Regions from separate parts of the Homo sapiens genome. Here regions 2, 3 and 4 are each linked to region 1. The links come from fine-mapping of genetic effects on plasma protein levels. A gene starts in region 1. Each other region holds a variant in brackets. All regions are shown on one strand. Distances are between the middles of the regions.

Region 1 (5,207 bases):
TCAAGCAATCCTCCCATCTCAGCCTCCCATAGTGCTGGAATTACAGGTGTGAGCCACCATACCTGGGCAAGACCATCTTGTTTTTTTTTTTTTTTTTTTTTTTTTTGAGACAGAGTCTCCTTCTGTCACCCAGGCTGGCACAATGTTGGCTCACTGTAACTCCCACCTTCCTGGTTCAAGCAATTCCCCTGCCTCAGCCTCCCGACTAGCTGGGATTACAGGTGCACGCCACCATGCCTGCCTAATTTTTTTGTATTTTTAGTAGAGACAAGGTTTCACCATGTTGGTCAGACTGGTCTCGAACTCCTGACCTCAGGCAATCAGCCCACCTCGGCCTCCCTAAGTGCTGGGATTGCAAGCATGAGCCACCGTGCCCAGCCCAAGACCATCTTTTAAAATATGGCCTGGATGGGAGTCAGGGAAACTGTCCTTGAAGTCTGAGCACCTTGAGATCTAGCTGTGTGACCAGAGGGATGTTGTCAGCCTCTCCAGGACTTGTTTTTTTTTCAATCTGTTCATCTTGGACCATCTGCCAGGGCTCCACCCAAAAACACACCCCAGCTCTCCCGTGCCCTGGGAAGGGTTCTAACCGCATCTTGGCAGAAAGTTCACTCTGTTTGATGCGGCTGATGAGTTCCCGAGCCTTGTCCTCCAGTGTGTTTCCAAACTCCTTCAGCTTATCCAAGGCACTGGAGACGTCTGGGGTCCCCTGGGCTGGGGCTGGGCCTGCCAGGAAGATGGGCAGGGGTTCAAAATTTGTTTTTTTTTTTTTTTTTTTGGAGATGGAGTCTTGCTCTGTAGCCCAAGCTGGAGTGCAGTGGCATGATCTCGGCCTACTGCAACCACCACCTCCCGGGTTCAAGCAGTTCTCCTGCCTCAGCCTCCCAAGTAGCTGGGATTACAGGTGTGCACCACCACACCCAGCTATTTTTGTTTTGTTTTGTTTTGAGACGGAGTCTTGCTGTGTCAGCCAGGCTGGAGTGCAGTGGTATGATCTCGGCTCACTGCAACCTCCGCCTCCCGGGTTCAAGTGATTCTCCTGCCTCAGCCTCCCGAGTAGCTGGGCCTACAGGCGCGTGCCTCCACACCTGGCTAATTTTTTTGTATTTTTAGTAGAGACGAAGTTTCACCATGTTGGCCAGGCTGGTTTCGAACTCCTGACCTCAAGTGATCTGCCCGCCTCGGCCTCCCAAAGTGCTGGGATTACAGGCATGAGCCACCCTGCCCGGCCAAAAATTTGTTATTGGAACCCCCTTAGGTTGGGATACCGGGATGGATAGAGATCCTTGGGGATCATGTGGTTAGAATGGGGAGGAATGGCCGGACGCGGTGGCTCACGCCTGTAATCCCAGCACTTTGGGAGGTCGAGGCAGGCGGATCACAAAGTCAGGAGATCGAGACCACGGTGAAACCCTGTCTCTACTGAAAATACAAAAAATTAGCCGGGCGCGGTGGCGGGCGCCTGTAGTCCTGCTGAGGCAGGAGAATGGCGTGAACCAGGGAGGCGGAGCTTGCAGTGAGCCGAGATCGCGCCACTGCACTCCAGCCTCGGCGACAGAGCGAGACTCCGTCTCAAGAGAAAAAAAAAAAAAAAAAAAAAGAATGGGGAGGAATACTGGAGTGACCTGGTGGGGCTCAAGCTGCTGGGAATTGCCTTACTCAGCACTGACCTCTCCCAGAGCCCCCCACCCAGCTTACCCACTTTCAAGGCTGTCGAAGCAGGACAGCCAATCCCAGAGGTGTGGGCCTCAATACGTCATCGGTTGCTAGTGCTCTCCTGCGCAGATTTGGCGCCTGCGGGACTGAGCCTGGGAGAACCTGGAGACCCACCCGACCACGATGAGGCAACCACGACCCAGAAGGGGCCCCGGAGCTCTCAGAGGTCCTCTAAGCCGGGACCCCAGGCCTGTAGCCACCTTCACTCTTCCAAATCTCCAACTCCGCAATTCTCCCATCCCACTTTTACCTTCCAAGACGATCGACAGAACCACCACCAGGACCGGGAGCGACAGGAAGAGCCTCATGGCGAGGCCGGAGGGGCACTCTGGAGGCAGAGGCAGGGGTTCAGGGGATCAGTGGCACCCTCCTCCCTCCCTACCTCCCTCCCACGATCCCCTCATCTCCCTTTTTGAGTTTCTTGCAGAGTGTAGGCGGGTGTCCCTCCCAGGCACTCAGCACCAACCTGAATCCTTGCTGGAGGGCTTGGTTGGGAGGTCCTGTCCTGCCCGCAGGACCTTTATCAGGCTGGGGAGGGGGCGGGGCAGGTTGATGTTGATCTCCCTCCTCCTGAGCCTTCCCCTGACCGCCTGCCTCCCTCTGTCCACCCACGTTTTTCTCCTCTGCCCCTGTCCCGTGAGCGTTGGGGTCAGGTGGGGTCCCGGGCACTTCCCTTAGCCCCAAAGCCCCTCCCCGTTCAGCACTCTCACCTCTCAATCTTCCTGACTCTGTGGGGTCCTCAGACCACCTTAGTCCCTTTCCCCACTCAGAATGTAGCAGGAGGAGCCGCAGACAAAATTCCTCAGACGCTGAGTTAAGGAAGGGGTTTATTCGTTCGGGGAATGGGCAAGATTCCTGTCTCAAGAGCCGAGCTCCCCGAGTGAGCAATCCCTGTTCCTTTTAAGGGCTCACAACTCTAAGTGGGTGCACGTGAGAGGGTCGTGATCGATTGAACAAGCAGGGGATGCGTGACTGGGGGCTGCATGCACCGGTAATTAGATCGGAACAAAACAGAATAGGGATTTTCACAGTGCTTTTCTATACAATGTCTGTAATCTATAGATAACCTAACGGATTAGGTCAGGGGTCAATCTTTAACCACCAGGCCCAGGGTGTGGCGCGGGCTGTCTGCTTGTGGATTTCATTTCTGCCTTTTAGTTTTTACTTTTTCTTTCTTTGGAGGCAGAAATTGGGCATAAGACAATATGAGGGGTGGTCTCCTCCCTTAAGAAGACAGCCTTGTCCTGTCCCTGTGGCCATCTTCCCTCAGGGGTCTCCCAGTAATAACCCTGTGATCTCATCCCCCCCTCATTCACACCGTGTCCCTAGATCACCTCTTTCCCTCACTTCCCCTCTCTCAGCAAGCCTCCTCAGCCCCAACAACTTTTCCTTTATGTTGCTGGGTCTCCCAGTTGGCCCGGCGCTCCTACCCTGCGTGCCACCTCCAATTTATTCCAGACCAGCCCTTGAAGCACCCCAGACCACCGTGATATTCTCTGGGCTCTTAACTTCATGGTTCTCAGTCTCCCTTTTTTGGGAGGGGAACGGGTCGCCTTAGCTGGATGACACTGCAAAAACCTCACCTGCATTAGCCAGGCATGGTGGCTCATGCCTGTAATCCCAGCACTTTGGGAAGCTGAAGAGGGAGGATCACTTGAGCCTGGGAGTTCGAGACCAGCCTGGGCAATATAGGGAGACCTCATCTCTACAAAAAAGTTCAAAAATTAGCCGAGCGTGGTGGCGCATGCCTGTAGTCCCAGCTACTCAAGAGGCTGAGGTAGGAAGATTGCTTGAGCCCAGGAGTTCGAGGCTGCAGTGAGCTGTGATTGTGCCACTGCACTCCAGCCTGGTGGGACAGAGACCCCATCTCAAAAAATTAAAACCCTCAGCTGCAAAGCTCTGCGTGTATGTCCCTTCTTCCCTTCCACCGGGCCTCACCCCCTTTGGCTGGCTACCTCCCCCAAACACTCTATCTGCTTTTATTCACCCTCTGACGCCCCTCCTGGCACCAAGCCTGCTTCCCACCATCACTACATCCGTCCCCCAAGGCTGGAGTCCAATGCCTTCCCCACCAGCTGCCTTTGACCGCCAGTGACCCTGGCAGCTGGTGGGGAGGGTGTCCTCCGCCTAGCCTCAGACTCTAGGTTGGCTGGCCTTGTGCCCCCGCAACCACGTGTCAGCCTGGCAGTAGGGGGATGGTTGTGAAAAGGACAGCATAGACAAGACCCTGGCAGGATTGCAACATCCCTCTGGCCAGCTCAGAGCTTCCAGTCCCTGTCAGCCCCAGGGGCCCCCCTACTTCCCCAACTAAGCCCAGCACCCCCCAAACATCCACCCAGATGTCTGCTTCCCAGACCCCACAAGAATAGCATAACAATGCTCCTGCTTTTCCAACCTCATCCTCCCCTCTGCTATAGGGGTTTCTCTTTAATAGATGGGGAAACTGTCGCATAACCAAGAACATCCAGTAGGGCTCAGCGAGGGGCAAAGATGGGGGCTACTGGCTGGTTGCAGTGGCTCACGCCTGTATTCCCAGAACTTTGGGAGGCCAAGGTGGGCGGAGCACTTGAGGTCAGGAGTTCGAGACCTGCCTGGCCAACATGGTGAAACTCCGTCTCTACCAAAAATTCAAAAATTATCCAGGCATGGTGGTGTGCACCTGTGGTCCCAGCTACTCAGGAGGCTGAGGCAGGAGAGTCGTTTGAACCCATGAGGTGGAGGTTGCAGTGAGCCAAGATTGTGCCACTGCACTCCAGCTTGGGTGACAGAGTGAGACTCCGTCTCAAAAACATAAAAAAAATTTAAAAAAGGGGGCTCTTTGTCCTTCTCCTTCCCAGGCTCCAGGATGTCTCTGTGGATGGTTGCTGGGTCAGCTCCTGTCCCATACGACTCCCTGCCAGCCTTTGTTCTGGAACCTCCTTCCCATCCTTGTCCCACCTCTGGATCTGACTGGGGATGTGGTGAGATAGGGCACCCTGTCTGCTTAGACATCTTCATAGGTTGGTGGGGCGTGGTGGCTCACACCTGTAATCCAACTACTTTGGGAAGCTTTGGCAGGAGGATCTGCTTGAGCCCAAGAGTTTGAGATCAGCCTGGGCAACATAGTAAGACCCCATCTCTACAAAAAAGTTTAAAATATGGCCAGGCATGGTGGCTCACTCCTGTAATCCCAGTGCTTTGGGAGGCCGAGGCGGGTGGATCACCTGATGTCAGGAGTTTGAGACCAACCTGACCACCGTGGTGAAACCTCGTTTCTACTAAAAATACAAAAATTAGCCTGGTGTGGTGGTGTGCGCCTGTAATTCTAGCTACTCAGGAGGCTGAGGCAGGAGAATTGCTTGAACCCGGGGGGCAGAGGTTGCGGTGAGCCAAGATGGTGCCACTGCACTCCAGCCTGGGCGACAGAGTGAGACTCCATCTCAAAAAAGAAAGAATTAGCCAGGCATGGTGGTGGGTGCCTGTGGCCCCAGCTACTCAGGAGGTTGAGGCAG
Region 2 (5,166 bases), 28 kb after region 1:
TAAGGTCACAGTCTGGGAGAGGAGTCCTTGGGATCAGAGGTTGTGCAGAAGCACCTTCCCCACCTCCTGCCTCATGAGATAAGGTTGCCAGGATTCCATTATCACGGTGAATTTCTCTGGGCTCATGGGTTAGGGGTCATAGTGGAGCCACCAAGGTAGACATCACAAATGGAATGCATATGTGTTAACTGACAGTGGCCTGGCCAGAGGTCAGGGGGCACTAGATCCTTGGCAAGAAAGCTAAGGGATCAACAGGTGAGATGTGAGACGCCAGGCGCATGGCAGCTCACACATACATGGCCCGGGACATGACAAAGCCTTTGCCCTGGTAGGAATCAGAGGGGCTGCTATAGGACAGAGCATCATAGATGGGGTTGATCTTGTCCAGATACTCTTCCTCCTCCTCCCCCTCCTCATCCTCTAGATCCAGGGAAACGTCTTCCACAGCAGGTGGCCCTGGAGGCACCGGGATGGGGGACCCCAGGCTTGTGGCTCCAGGGTGCAAGGGTCCTGACCGTTCTTCCAAGGTGGGCAGCTCATGGTATCGAGGCATTTCCTGGAGGTAGAGAGAGGACAGGAACTCAAGATCACTTCCTACGCACGACACAGATTACCAATCTGCTCTTGACCCCAAAATCCTGACCGCTCTCTCCCCATGCCAACAAGATGCCACCTCACTCCTTGTCCCCTGAGGCCATATTGCACTGGGACATTCATTCAGCCCTTCCTTAACCCAAAGCCCAGCTCGTGCAACTCACCCTGTTAATCCTGGGACTCACTTTTGACACTCGATCTCTGCAAATCTTTCCCCATGAACCTTTCACCTCAGTCTTGACCTCAAATACTTAACCTTGGGCTCTAAACAGTCCTTTGAACCTTGAGCGCAACCTCAGTGTCTGACCCCTGACCTCCAGTAGACCACTGAGGGGAGTGACTTGATTTGTCTTGTCCCAGCTTCAGGCACAGTATCCAGCAAATGTAGATAATCAATTTTCTTTCATTCTGTTTTTTTTTGTTGTTGAGACGGAGTTTTGCTCTTGTCTCCCAGGCTGTTGTGCAATGGTGCAATCTGGGCTCACTGCAACCTCTGCCTCCCGGGTCCAAGCGATTCTCCTGCCTCAGCCTCCCAAGTAGCTGGGATTACAGGCGCCCGCCACCACGCCCAGCTAATTTTTGTAATTTTTAGTAGAGACAGGGTTTCACCATGTTGGCCAGGCTGGTCTTGGAACTCCTGACCTCAGGTGATCCACCTGCCTTGGCCTCCCAAAGTGCTGGGATTACAGGCGTGAGCAACCGCACCCGGCCTTTTTCTTTTTTGAGACGGAGTCTTGCTCTGTTGCCTAGGCTGGAGTGCAGTGGCGTGGTCTCAGCTCATTGCAACTTCTGCCTCCTGGGTCCAAGCGATTCTCCTGCTTCAGCCTCCTGAATAGCTGGGATTACAGGAGCATGTCACCCATGCCTGGCTTATTTTTGTTTTTAGTAGAGAAGGGGTTTCACCTTGTTAGCCAGGGTGGTCTGGAACTCCTGACGTCAGGTGATCTGCCCGTCTCAGCCTCCCAAAGTGCTGGGATTACAGGTGTGAGCCACCATGCCTGACCAGATAATCAATTTTCATTGACCTAATGACTTTTCCTCTTTTTTTTTTTTTTTGAGATAGGGTCTCACCCTGATGCCCAGGCTGGAGTGTAGTGGCACAGCCCCAACCACCTGGGCTTAAGCAATCCGCCCACCTCAGCCTACAGGCATTTGCCACCACATCCAGGTAAATTCAGTATTTTTGTAGACGCAAAATGTTGCTGGGTAGCCCATGTTGCCCACGCTGGTCTCGAGCTCCTAGGCTCAAGGGGTCCAGCTACCTTGGCCTCCCAAAGTACTGGGATTATAGACCAGAGCCACCATGCCCGGCCCAGGTGATTTTATTTATTTGGTTTTATTTATTTTTTTGAGACGGAATCTTGCTCTGTTGCCCAGGCTGGAGTGCAGTGGTGTGATCTTAGCTCACTGTAACCTCGGCCTCCTGGGTTCAGGCGATTCTTCCTCCTCAGCGCCCCGGGTAGCTAAGATTACAGGCTCGCACCACCACACCCAACTAATTTTTTGTGTTTTGAGTAGAGACGGGGTTTCACCATGTTGCACAGGCTGGTCTCGAACTCCTGACCCCAAGTGATCCTCCTGCCTTGGCCTCCCAAAGTGCTGGGATTATAGGCGTGAGCCACCGTGCCCAGCCCCCAAGTGACTTTAAATTCTAACCTTGTGACCTTGGGCCTTTTCACCCCTGACCTCCCCCATGGAATCCTGAACACATCTCAATGCATTAAGCACCAACCGGGGACACACCCTTGACCTTGAGTTATGACCTTTAGTCTTTGACCTCTTTTGCCAGGCCTGACCCCTGGCCCTTCAACCCAGACCCCCAACCCACCTTTGTCTTCCCATGAGCTCCTACCTGCTCAGTGCATGAGGCGCCAGCATCAAAGTAGGGGGTCTTGAGTGGGCTGTGCTCCGAGGCCCCCAGAGTGAAGAGCTGGGAGGGCTGTAGTGGGAGAGGGGCGGGGAGGTCAGGAACTGCCCCCACCACCCAGCCAGCTTCTCCCTGCCAGGCCCCTCCCAGCCCTGGGGTGGGTGTGGAGGTGGGGATAGCTTGGGCTCCAGGGAAAGTGCTCACCATCTCCTGTGCCTCCAGCTTCGCTTTTGGGGT[C/T]GGTGGCTTGTAGGAGGGAGGTCCCTCCAGGCTGTGGGGTAGGAGGTAGGACAAGTGGAGATTAAGACCCAGGCATCCCTCTGACTCCGGGGTTATGGCACATGCTGTTCCCTCTACCTGGGTCTCCCTTTCCCCTGCCCCCTTTTCTTGCCTGGAGTAAGAGTTTTTATTCATTCCATGAATTCCTCTTTTTCCCGGAAGCCTTCAGGTTTCCCCAGTGGATCAGGAATTCCTGTTACACGGACATACCTAGCTGTACTTCCCCCTCAGGGCACTTACTGAATTTGTACTTGAAATGTTATTTATAATTACCATGCCCCACTGTGAGCTCTGGGAGGGAAAAAAGATCTGTGTTGGGCTGGGGGCAGTGGCTCACGCCTGTAATCCCAGCACTTTGGGAGGCTGAGGCGGGCGGATCATCTGAGGTCAGCAGTTCGAGACCAGCCTGGCCAACATGGTGAAATGCCATCTCCCCAAAAAATACAAAAATTAGCTGGGCATGATGGTGCACGCCTGTAATCCCAGCTACTCAGGAGGCTGAGGCACAAGAATCGCTTGAACTCGGGAGGCAGAGGTTGCAGTGAGATGAGATCACTCCACTCCAGCCTGTGCAATAGAGTGAGATGCCATCTCAAATTAAAAAAAAAAAAAAAAAAAAAAGAAAGAAAGATCAGCCAGGCGTGGTGGCTCACGCCTGTAATCCCAGCACTTTGGGAGGCCGAGGTGGGCAGATCACCTGAGGTCAGGAGTGTGAGACCAGCCTGACCAACATGGAGAAACCCTGTCCCTACTAAAAATACAAAATTAGCCGGGCGTGGTGGCGCATGCCTGTAATCCCAGCTACTCAGGAGGCTGAGGCAGGAGAATTGCTTGAACCCGGGAGGTGGAGGTTGTGGTGAGCCGAGATCGCGCCATTGCACTCCAGCCTGGGAAAAAAGAGCGAAACTCCACCTCAAAAAGAAAAAAAAAGAAAAGAAAAGAAAAGAAAAAAAAGAAAGATCTGGGTCGTCAGCAAGGTGTCTCCAGAATCCACTATGAGGAGTTCAGTAAATATTTGTGAAAAGAATGAATGAATAAATGAAGTGCCTTCCTGTCCCTCAAATTAGGTTAAAGTTCCTGTCCCTCATTCTACACACCCACAGACCAAAGCATACAGTAATGACAGGTGCTTACGATGCATTCTGTCAGCTCAGATGTCCCCTCTTCCAGGAAGCCCTACCTGACCATCCAGCCTGGGTCAGATGCCCCCTCTGGCTTCTCAGAGCTTGCTCAACTGCCCTATCCCATCACTGGTCATGCTACACCATCACTATCTGGAGACAGTTTTGTCTCCTCCTCCATATTGTGAGCTCCAGGCCGTCTCGGACACAGTGGGTCACAGCATGGAGCTGCACACAGAGGAGATCAGCAGCAAGTTATTGGTTTGAACTAACTAGATGATTAAGACAGTGGTGTAACAGACCTTCCTGTGCATCAGAAAAACTTAGAGAGCTTGTGGTAAATACAGATTCCAGGCTGGGCATGGTGGCTCACGCCTGTAATCCGAGCACTTTGGGAGGCTGAGGTGGGTGGATCACCTGAGGTCAGGAGTTCAAGACCAGCCTGGGCAACATGGCAAAACCCTGTCTCTACAAAAATACAAAAACTAGCTAGGTGTGGTGGTACGTGGTCCCATTTACTTGGGAGGCTGCGGTAGGAAGATTGGTTGAGCTCAGGAGGCGAAGGTTGCAGTGAGCTCAGATTATACCACTGAACTCTAGCCTGAGGGACAGAGTGAGATCCTGTCTCAAAAAAACAAATTTTGCATAGCTCGCATACCTCAGACTGCTCTGAGCTATTTTTCTTTTCTTTTTTTTTTTTTACAAGGTCTCACTCTGTTGGCCAGACTGGAGTACAGTGGTGTGATCATAGCTCACTGCAGCCTCCACATGCCCCCACCCCCACCTCAGCCCACCCAAGTAGCTGGGACTACAGGCATGGGCTACCAGGTCTGGGTAATTTTTGTATTTTTTTTGTAGACAGGTTTCGCCATGTTGCCCAGGCTGGTCTCGAACTCCTGAGCTCAAGTTATCTACTTGGGTTGGCTTCCCAAAGTGCTGGGATTACAGGTGTGAGGCACCGTGCCCAGTCTTTTATTTTTTAAGATACAGGGTCTTGCTCTGTCACCTGGGCTAGAGTGCAGTGGCATGATCATAGCTCATTGCAGACTTGAGCTCCTGGGCTCAAGTGACCTCCCACCCCAGCCTCCTGAGGAGCTGGACCACAGGTGTGCACCACTTTGCCTGGCTAATTTTGTTTGTTTTATTTTTTTAGAGATGGTGTCTCACTTTGATGTTCAGTCTGGTCTCGAACCACTAGCAACAAGAGCCTTGGCCTTCCAAAGTGCTGGCATTGGCTGGGCGCAGTGGCTCATGCTTGTGATCTTAGCACTTTGGGAGGCCGAGGCGGGTGGATCACTTGAGGTCAGG
Region 3 (5,207 bases), 13 kb before region 1:
ACTCCTGACCTCAGGTGATCTGCCCGCCTCAGCCTGCCAAAGTGCTGGGATTACAGGCATGAGCCACTGCACCTGGCCTCCAAACAATCTTTCTAAGTTTAGGCCTGACTAGATTTTCCCTCCCTCCCTCCCTCCCTTCCTTCTTTCTTTCTTTCTTTCTTTCTTTTTTTTTTGGATGAGACAGGGTCTCATTCTGTTACCCAGGCTGGAATGCAGTGGCACAAACATAGCTCACTGCAGCCTCAACCTCCTGGGCTCAAGTGATCCTCTTGCCTCCGTCTCCGAAGTAGCTGGGACTACAGGTGTGTGCCATCACGCCTGGGTAATTTTTTGTATTTCTAGTAGAGATGGGGTTCTCAAACTCCTGACCTCAAGTGATCCACTCACCTCAGCCTTCCAAAGTGCTGGGATTACAGGTGTGAGCCACCGCGCTCGGCATATTCTTCACTGTTTTATTCCCCACATTGAAACAGTTTCTAGCACTTAGCAGATGCTCAATAAATATGTGTTGAGGAACGAATGACTCTCTAACTTGCCAAAGGGAGCAAGTGTGGATTTGAAGATGTACTGAGCATTTACAATGTGCCAGACACCCTATAGGCCTTCTGCTTTACTTCCCCACAGAACCACCATTTCACAGGAAAGGAAACTGAGGCTCACAGTAATGCCTCTCTCTTAAGATCACACAGGGAGTAAGGGGCTCTATGCCAGCCTGGGGACTCAGGTCCCACCAAGCTTGTGTCCTTCATTACCCCACAAGACCATCTTTTTTTTTTTCAATTTTTTTTTTTTTTTTTGAGACGTGGATTCGCTCTTATTGCCCAGGCTGGAGTGCAATGGCATTATCTCAGCTCACTGCAACCTCCGCCTCCCAGGTTCAAGTGATTCTCCTGCCTCAGCCTCCCAAGTAGCTGGGAATAGAGGCATGCACCACCATGCCTGACTAATTTTGTATTTTTAATAGAGACGGAGTTTCTCCATGTTGGTCAGGCTGGTCTCAAACTCCCAACCTCAGGTGATCTGCCCAACTTGGCCTCGAACCCCCGATCTCAGGTAATCTGCCCGACTCAGCCTCCCAAAGTGCTGGGATTACAGGCATGAGCTATCGCACCGGGGCTGGCTTGTATGCTTTTTGTTTTGTTTTGTTTTGTTTTGTTTTTTAAATAGAGACAGGATCACCGGGCATGGTGGCTCACACCTGTAATCCCAGCACTTTGGGAGGCTGAGGCGGGTGGATCACAAGGTCAGGAGTTCAAGACCAGCTTGGCCAAGATGGTGAAACCCCATCTCTACTAAAAATACAAAAAAATTAGCCGGGCGTGGTGGTGGGCGCCTGTAATCCTAGCTACTCAGGAGACTGAGGCAGAGAATTGCTTGAACTGGGGAGGCAGAGGTTGCAGTGAGCCGAGATGGCGCCACTGCACTCCAGCCTGGGCAACAGAGCGAGACTCTGTCTCAAAAAAAAAAAAAAAAAAATAGAGACAGGATCTCGCCATGTTAGCCAGGCTGGTCTCAAACTCCTAGGCTCCAGCAATCCTCCCACAGTGCTGGGATTACAGGTGTGAGCCACCGTACCTAAGCAAAACCATCTTTTTTTTTTTTCTTTTGTGACGGAATGTTGCTTTGTTGCCCAGGCTGGAGTGCAGTGGTGCAATCTTGGCTCACTGTAACCCCCACCTTACTGGTGCAAGCAATTCCCCTGCCTCAGCCTCCCGAGTAGCTGGGATTACAGGTGCACACCCCCATGTCAGGCTAATTTTTTGTACTTTTAGTAGAGACAGGGTTTCACCATGTTGGCCAGGCTGGTCTTGAACTCCTGATCTCAGGCAATCCGCCCGCCTAGGCCTCCCAAAGTGTTAGGATTATAGGTGTGAGCCACGGCGCCCAGCCCAAGACCATCTTTTAAAATGTGGCCTGGATGGGAGTCCGGGAAACTGTCCCTGACGTCTGAGATCCTTGAGATCTAGCTGTGTGACCAGAAGGATGCTGTCAGCCTCTCTGGGACTTGTTTTTTTTTTCAATCTGTTCATCTTGGACATCCTCCAGGGCTCCACACAAACACACCCCAGCCCTCCCGTGCCCTGGGAAGGGTTCTAACCACATCTTGGCAGGAAGTTCACTCTGTGTGATGCGGTTGATGAATTCCCGAGTGTAGTCCTCCAGGGTCTTTCCTAACTCCTCCAGGCCATCAAAGGGGTTGGAGACTTCTGGAGCCCCCTAGGCTGGGGCTGGGCCTGCCAGGAAGATGAGGCAGGGGTGCAAAATTTGGTTGTTGTTGTTGTTGTTGTTGTAGTTTTGAGACGGAGACTTGCTGTGTCAAATGGTGCGATCTCGGCTTACTGCAACCTCCGCCTCCTAGGTTCAAGCAGTTCTCCTGTCTCAGCCTCCCAAGTAGCCAAGCGCGCACCACAACGCCTGGCTGTTTTGTATTTTTAGTAGAGATGGGGTTTCACCATGTAGGCCAGGCTGGTTTCGAACTCCTGACCTCAAGTGATCTGCCCGCCTCGGCCTCCCAAAGTGCTGGGATTACAGGCATTAGCCGCCACGCCCCACCAAAAATTTGTTATTGGAACCCCCTTGGGGTGGGATCCCGGGGATAGATAAGGAGATCCTTGGGGATCATGTGGTTAGAATGGGGAGGATACTGAAGTGACCGCGTGGGGCTCAAGCCGCTGGGAATTGCCTTACTCAGCACTGACCTCCTCCCACAGCCCATCGCCCCATCACCCACTTTCAAGGCTATAAAAGGAGGACAGCCAATCCCAGAGGTGTGGAGATCCATACGTCATCGGTTACTAGGGCTCTCCTGGGCAGATTTGGCGCCTGCCGGACTGAGCCTGGGCGAACCTGGAGACCCACTCGACCACAATGGGGCAACCACGACCAAGAAGGGGCCCCAGAGCTCTCAGAGGTCCTCTAAGCCGGGACCCCAGGCCTGTAGCCACCTTCACTCTTCCAAATCTCCAACTCCGCAATTCTCCCATCCCACTTTTACCTTCCAAGAC[G/C]ATCGACAGAACCACCACCAGGACCGGGAGCGACAGGAAGAGCCTCATGGCGAGGCCGGAGGGGCACCCTGGAGGCGGAGGCAGGGGTTCAGGGGATCAGTGGCACCCTCCTCCCTCCCTCCCACGATCCCCTCATCTCCCTTTATGAGTTCTTGCAGAGTGGAGGCGGGTGTCCCTCCCAAGCACTCAACAACCTGAATCCTTGCTGGAGGGCTTGGTTGGGAGGTCCTGTCCTGCCCGCAGGACCTTTATCAGGCTGGGGAGGGGGCGGGGCAGGTTGATGTTGATCTCCCTCCTCCTGAGCCTTCCCCTGGAAGATTGCCTCCTTCTGCCCACCCAGGTTTTTCTCCTCTGCCCCTGGCCCGTGGGCGTTGGGGTCAGGTGGGGTCCTGACCATTTCCCTTAGCTCCGAAGCCCTTTACCATTCAGCACCCTCACCTCCCAATCTCCCTGACTCTGGGGGGTCCTCAGACTACCATAGCTCCTTTCCCCACTCAGAGGACAGCCTCGTCCTGTCCCTGTGGCCATCTTCCCTCAGGGGTCTCCCAGTAATAACCCTGTGATCTCATCCCCCCCTCATTCACACCGTGTCCCTAGATCACCTCTTTCCCTCACTTCCCCTCTCTCAGCAAGCCTCCTCAGCCCCAACAACTTTTCCTTTATGTTGCTGGGGCCTCCCAGTTGGCCCCGCAACCCTGCCCTGCGTGCCACCTCCAATTTCTTTCAGACCAGCCCTTGAAACATCCCAGACCACCCTGATATTCTCTGGGCTCTTAACTTGATGATTTTCAGTCTCCCTTTTTTGCAAAGGGAAGGGGTCGCCTTAGCTGGACACTAAAAACCTCACCTGCATTGGCCAGGCATGGTGGCTCATGCCTGTAATCCCAGCGCTTTGGGAAGCTGAGGAAGGAGGATCACTTGAGCCCAGGAGTTAAGAGACCAGCCTGGGCAATATAGGGAGACCTCATCTCTACAAAAAAGTTCAAAAATTAGCTGAGCGTGGTGGCGCACACCTGTAGTCCCAGCTATTCAAGAGGCTGAGGTAGGAAGATTGCTTGAGCCCAGGAGTTCGAGGCTGCAGTGAGCTGTGATTGCGCCACTGCACTCCAGCCTGGTGAGACAGAGTGAGACCCCATCTCAAAAAATTAAAACCTTCAGCTGCAAAGCTCTGAGTGTATGCCCCTTCTTCCCTTCCACCGGGCCTCACCCCCTTTGGCTGGCTACCTCCCCCAAACACTCTATCTGCTCTTATTCACCCTCTGATGCCCCTCCTGGCACCAAGCCTGCTTCCCACCATCACCACATCCGTCCCCCAGGGCTGGAGTCCAATTCCTTCCCCACCAGCTGCCTTTGACCGCCAGTGACCCTGGCAGCTGATGGGGAGGGTGTCCTCAGCCCAGCCTCAGACTCTAGTTCGGCTGGCCTTGTGCCCCCACAACCACGTGTCAGCCTGGCGGTAGGGGGATGGTTGTGAAAGGGACAGCATAGACAAGACCCTGGCAGGATTGCAACATCCCTCTGGCCAGCTCAGAGCTTCCAGTCCCTGTAAGCCCCAGGGGCCCCCCTACTTCCTCAACTGAGCCCAGCATTCCCCAAACATCCACCCAGATGTCTGCTTCCCCGATCCCACAAGAATAGAATAACAATGCTCCTGATTTTCCAACCTCATCCTCCCCTCTGCTATAGGGGTTTCTGTTTAATAGATGGGGAAACTGTCACACAACCAAGAACATCCAGTAGGGCTCAGTGAGGGGCAAAGAGGGGGCTACTGACTGGGCGCAGTGGCTCACACCTATAATCCCACCACTTTGGGAAGCTGAGGCAGGAGGATCTGCTTGAGCCCAGGAGTTTGACACCAGCCTGGGCAACACAGTAAGACCCTATCTCTAGAAAAAAATTAAAAATTTGGCCAGGTGCGGTGGCCCACGCCTGTAATCTGTGCACTTTGGGAGGCCTAGGTGGGTGGATCATTTGAGGTCAGGAGTTCTAGACCAGCCTGACCAACATGGTGAAACCCCGTCCCTGTCAAAAATAGAAAAAATTAGCCGGGTGTGGTGGCACAGGCCTGTAATCCCAGTTACTTGGGAGGCTGAGGCTGACCAACATGGAGAAACCCGTCTCTACTAAAAATAGAAAATTAGCCAGGTGTGGTGGCACATGCTTGTAATCCCAGCTACTTGGGAGGCTGAGGCAGGGGAAGGT
Region 4 (5,207 bases), 74 kb after region 1:
GGTTCATGCCATTCTCCTGCCTCAGCCTCTCGAGTAGCTGGGACTACAGGTGCCTGCCACCACGCCCAGCTGATTTTTTGTATTTTTAGTAGAGACGAGGTTTCATGGTCTTAGCCAGGATGGTCTCGATCTCCTGACCTCGTGCTCCACCTGCCTCGGCCTCCCAAAGTGCTGGGATTACAGGCGTGAGCCACTGTGCCCGGCTGCTCGGTGCATTTTTAAATGTTTTGTAGAATTTGATTCTCGCTTTGTTGCCCAGGCTGGTCTTGAACTCCTGCCCTCAAGTGATCCTCTCACCTCAGCCTCCCAAAGTGCTGGGATTACAGGTGTGAGCCATCGCGCCTGGCAATAAATGTGCTTTAGATCTCTCTGACCTTCTCTCCCCAATCTGAGGCCAGGTTTGTGGACCAGGACCTCTGGGTTTTAGTGCCAGCCTTGCTACTAACTTGCTTTGCAAAATCCTGGGACCCCCGTTTATCCATTGAACAAAAGAACCAGTCCCCAGGAAGTCTTCTTCTAGGAAGGCCTCTAGCACCTCCTTTCTCCTGGCCTACGAATGAGTGGGCTTAGCTCTCTCCTGGCTGTTCTTTGTGAGCAGGGATGAGCCCAGGAAGAAAGCCCCAGGAGGCTGGCCATGGTGGCTCAAGCCTGTAATCCCAGTACTTTGGGAGGCCGAGACAGATGGATCACCTGAGGTCAGGAGTTTGAGACCAGCTTGGCCTACGTGGTGAAACCCTGTCTCTACTGAAAATACAAAAATTAGCAGGATGTGGTGGCGGGTGCCTATAATCCCAGCTACTTGGGAGACTGAAGCCGGAGAATCGCTTGAACCCGGGAGGTGGAGGTTGCAGTGAGCCAAGATTGTGCCACTGCACTCCAGCCTGGGTGACAGCAAGGCTCTGCCAAAAAAAAAAGGAAAAAAAAAAAAAGAAAGAAAAAAATGCCCCAGAGGTGTAGGCTGGAGTTTCACACCCTTGGGTCACAAGCATGAGGCTGAGCACCAAGTTTGGTGACAAATGACTGGGTGGGTTCCACGCCCGCCTGGGGAGTTGACTTTTAGTGTCAAGGAGTCCCAGAGGTGGCACTTCACTGAAGAGCCATAACCACTAGAAGGTAGGGGCATAGGTAGGGGCAAAGGCTTCCTGACGGAGCTATGGAGCTGATGCCAAGTATTTTACCTGCCTGGCAACCTTTCCTTTCTTTTAGCAGCAGCAGCAGCTCCCCTAACCACTTCCTCCCCTCAGTCTTTTTTTTTTTTTTTTAATTAAGACAGGGTCTCACTCTGTCGCTCAGGCTGGAGTGTGGTGACATTACCATGGCTCACTGCAGCCATGACCTCCCTGGCTCGGGATCCTTCCATGTCAACTTCCCGAGTAGCTGGGACTACAGGCATGTGCCACTATGCTTGGCTAATTTTTCTATTTTTTTGTAGAGATGGGTTTTTGGGTTGTTGCCGAGGCTGGTCTTGAACTCTTGGGCTCAAGCAATTTGCCTGCCTCGGCCTCCCAGAGTGCTGGAATCACAAACGTGAGCCACCATACCCGGCTCTTATTCTGAGACAGGGTCATGCTCTGTTGGCCAGACTGGAGTGCAGTGGTACAATCATGGCTCATTGAAGCTTCCACCTCTCAGGCTCAAGCAATCCTCCCACTTCAGCCTCCCAAGTGGCTGGGACTATAGGCATTCGCCACTGTGCCAGAATAATCTTTTTTTTTTTTTTTGAAACGGAGTCTTGCTCTGTTGCCCAGGCTGGAGTGCAGTGGAGCGATCTTGGCTCACTGCAAGCTCTGCCTCCTGGGTTCACGCCGTTCTCCTGCCTCAGCCTCCCGAGTAGCTGGGACTACAGGCGCCCGCCACCATGCCCAGCTAATTTCTTGTATTTTTAGTAGAGATGGGGTTTCACCTTGTTAGCCAGGATGGTCTCAATCTCCTGACCTTGTGATCTGCCCGCCTCGGACTCCCAAAGTGCTGGGATTACAGGCGTGAGCCACCGCACCCGGCCAATCTTTTTTTTTTTTTTTTTTTTTCTGATACGGAGTGTCAGTCTGTTGCCCAGGCTGGAATGCAGTGGTGTGATTTTGGCTCACTGCAACCTCTGCCCCCTGGGTTCAAGTGATTCTCCTGCCTCAGCCTCCCAAGTAGCTGGGACTACAGGTTTGGGCCACGACGCCTGGCTATGTT[C/T]GCAGTTTTATTAGAGACGGGGTTTCACAATATTACCAGGCTGGTCTTGAACTCCTGACCTAAAGTGGTCTGCCCTCCTCTGCCTCCCAAAGTGCTGGGATTACAGTCGTGAGCCACCGTGCTCGGCCTGCCAGACTCATCTTTTGACTTTTTTGTAGAGACAGGCTCTCACTAGGTTGCTCAGGCTGGTCTTGAACTCCTAGGCTCAAGCAATTTTCCTGCCTTGGCCTCCCAAACTGCTGGGATTACAAGCATGAGACATGACTCCTGGTATACATATATATATATATGAGACTATATATATATGTATAGACTATATATATATATATATGTATGAGACTATGTGTGTGTGTGTGTGTGTGTGTGTGTGTGTGTGTATATATATATATATATATATATATATATATATATATATATATAGTCATTTGCAATCAAATATAACCTTACTAATAAACTATATACCCCAAAAAATCTGTACATGTCTGGGAGATGCACAGAGCTTTGTAAATTTCCAAGGGCAGGGCAAGGAGGGGCTGGTGGTGAAAGCTTTCAGAATTCTTCAGGATGTCCAGGCTTTGAAGAATAGGCAAGCTTTGTCACAGCACGGGATATGGGGAAGGGCATTCCAGGTAGGAGGGTGGTGACAGCGGGAGCAGGGGATGTGAGGGTCAGTATCTTAGAAGGTCCAGAATGCCAGCTGAAGGGCGGCTCATGCTCTGGGAACCACAGAAGGTTAAAGAGCAAGGGTAGTTTACTACCAACTTCTCTTTACTTCCTGGAGCCCCAGATCCTGAGGTTCACCCCTCCCACTTTCCTATTGCCCTAGGCCTTTGTAATGTAGGCTGGAGTTTCAACCCTTGGGAGGAGGGGTCATACTGATGTGGCCCCAGGCTGCCATCTCTATGCAAATTCCCTGGGATGCCATGCAGATGAGGGACCTTATGCAAATGTATTCCCTCCTGGTGGGGCAGGCTGGGATCCTCCACTCATTAACTTGGGGACCAGGTACTGGATGGAGAACCCTTTCCTCTTCTCTTTCCCTTCCCACTAGCCATCTGTTCACTCGCCATCCAACTCACCAAACCCCAACACCAATGTCTGCCTTTAGAGTGGTATCTCTGTATCTGGTCCCTGCCCTGGACTAAGGGAGTGTTTGTATTTTATTTATTTTATTTTATTATATTTTATTTTACTTTTGAGATGGAGTCTCGCTCTGTTGCCCAGGCTAGAGTGCAGTGGCGCGATCTCGGCTCACTGCAAGCTCCGCCTCCCGGGTTCACGCCATTCTCCTGCCTCAGCCTCCCGAGTAGCTGGGACTACAGGCGTCTGCCACCATGCTGGCTAATATTTTGTATTTTTAGTAGAGACAGGGTTTCACCGTGTTAGCCAGGATGGTCTCGATCTCCTGACCTCGTGATCCGCCCGCCTGGCCTCCCAAAGTGTTGGGATTACAGGCGTGAGCCACTGCGCCCAGCCTATTTGTTTATTTATTTATTTATTTTTGAGACGAAGTCTCGCTCTTGTCCCCCCAGGCTAGCGTACAATGGTGTGATCTCGGCTCACTGCAACCTCCGCCTCCCGGGTTCAAGCGATTCTCCTGCCTGAGCCTCCCGAGTAGCTGGGATTACAGGTGCCTGCCACCACGCCCAGCTAATTTTTGTATTTTTAGTAGAGACGGGGTTTCTACTAAATCATGTTTGCCAGGCTGGTCTCGAACCCCTCACCTCAGGTGATCTGCCTGCCTCGGCCTCCCAAAGTTCTGGGATTACAGGCGTGAGCCACCGCACCTGGCCTTTATTTTTTTTTTTTTGAGACAGAGTGTCGCCCTGTCACCCAGGCTGGAGTGCAGTGGTGTGATCTCGGCTCGCTGCCACCTCCGCCTCCTGGGTTCAAGTGATCCTTGTGTCTCAGCCTCCTGAGTAGCTGGGATTACAGGCGCGTGCCACCATGCCCAGCTAATTTTTGTCTTTTTTTTTTTGTAGAGACAAGGTTTCACCATGTTGGCCAGGCTGGTCTCGAACTCATGACTTCAGGTGATCTGCCTGCCTCGGCCTCCCAAAGTGCTGGGATTACAGGTGTGAGCCACCGCACCTGGCCTAAGGCAACCTTTTTGCTTTTCTCTGTGTCTCTTTATTTTTCCTTAGATAATCACAATAATTAACATGTACTGCACATGGACTCTGTGCCAGGCTTTGTACTAAATACTTCCCTGGTTATCTCATCAAATTCTCCCCTCCATCCTCTGATCCTCTGTGTGCATTTGCTGTATTTTTTTAAAGGGAATTTTCAATTCTGTTATATAGGGAACAAGAGCCCTATAAATAAGGACACAGACAGGTGAAATGAAGGATGGATATTAAGAAGCAACTCAAGCCGGGCGTGGTGGCTCACACCTGTAATCCCAGCACTTTGGGAGGCTGAGGCAGGCGGATCATGAGGTCAGGAGATCGAGACCATCCTGGCGAACACGGTGAAATCTTGTCTCTACTAAAAATACAAAAAATTAGCCAGGCGTGGTGGCACCCGCCGGTAATCCCAGCTACTCGGAAGGCTGAGGCAGGAGAATCAGTTGAACCCGGGAGGCGGAGGTTGCAGTGAGCTGAGATCGCGCCACTGCACTCCAGCCTGGGCAACTGAGCAAGACTCCGTCTCAAAAAAAAAAAAAAAGCAACTCATGAGACCTGTTAGACATACTAAGAATGTGAGCTGAACACAGATGGGAGGGATGCAGGGATCCAGTAAGCTCCAAGCATTCATGCGTCCTGTGGGCGACACCCACTCTGCTCCATGAGTCCCAAGCCCAAGACACAGGTAAAAGCTGTGGCTGCCAAGCAGGTGATCAGCCAGCTACAGTCATCTAGCTTCTCATGTTTATTTTTGTTGTTGTTTTGAGACGGAGTCTCGCCCTGTTGCCCAGGCTGGAGTGCAGTGGCGTGATCTTGGCTCACTGCAAACTCCGCCTCCCGGGTTCAAGTGATTCTCATGCCTCAGCATCCCCAGTAGCTAGCATTACAGGTGTGCCCCCC

Which allele goes with the higher level. Positions count from the first base shown, and alleles are read on the strand shown. Strength reflects both the effect of a copy and how common the allele is. Not every link is listed here.
As copies of T replace C in region 2, the plasma level of the protein whose gene starts at base 2,308 in region 1 goes down (strong association).
For the plasma level of the protein whose gene starts at base 2,308 in region 1, T is the low allele of the variant in region 4 and C is the other (moderate association).

Evidence for each region. PIP is the posterior inclusion probability: the model's chance that the variant is causal. Protein levels are from antibody-based Olink assays in UK Biobank. Linkage for the fine-mapping came from a reference panel and not from the study's own genotypes, which makes the PIPs less certain.
Region 2: its variant is fine-mapped to the plasma level of the APOC1 protein (UK Biobank, PIP above 0.99).
Region 3: its variant is fine-mapped to the plasma level of the APOC1 protein (UK Biobank, PIP above 0.99).
Region 4: its variant is fine-mapped to the plasma level of the APOC1 protein (UK Biobank, PIP above 0.99).

The regions. Positions count from the first base shown.
Region 1 is chr19:44,911,709-44,916,915 of GRCh38, reverse strand. It overlaps APOC1 (apolipoprotein C1), which reads right to left and starts at 2,308. Exons shown (of 4, transcript NM_001645.5): 1 at 2,183-2,308; 2 at 1,967-2,044; 3 at 591-726. The coding sequence starts at 2,024. RefSeq lists enhancers at 1,237-1,994, 1,995-2,754, 3,513-4,272 and a promoter at 2,169-3,295.
Region 2 is chr19:44,883,500-44,888,665 of GRCh38, reverse strand. It overlaps NECTIN2 (nectin cell adhesion molecule 2), which reads right to left. Exons shown (of 9, transcript NM_001042724.2): 7 at 2,666-2,729; 8 at 2,447-2,533; 9 at 1-556. The coding sequence ends at 287. Among named protein-coding and RNA genes, the nearest start is that of TOMM40, 5.2 kb to the left of the region's middle. RefSeq lists enhancers at 2,597-3,097, 3,417-3,916. The variant C/T (reference allele first, on the strand shown) is at 2,699.
Region 3 is chr19:44,924,822-44,930,028 of GRCh38, reverse strand. It overlaps the pseudogene APOC1P1. Among named protein-coding and RNA genes, the nearest start is that of APOC1, 13 kb to the right of the region's middle. RefSeq lists an enhancer at 1,795-2,687. The variant G/C (reference allele first, on the strand shown) is at 3,006.
Region 4 is chr19:44,837,297-44,842,503 of GRCh38, reverse strand. No RefSeq gene overlaps it. Among named protein-coding and RNA genes, the nearest start is that of NECTIN2, 6.4 kb to the left of the region's middle. The variant C/T (reference allele first, on the strand shown) is at 2,182.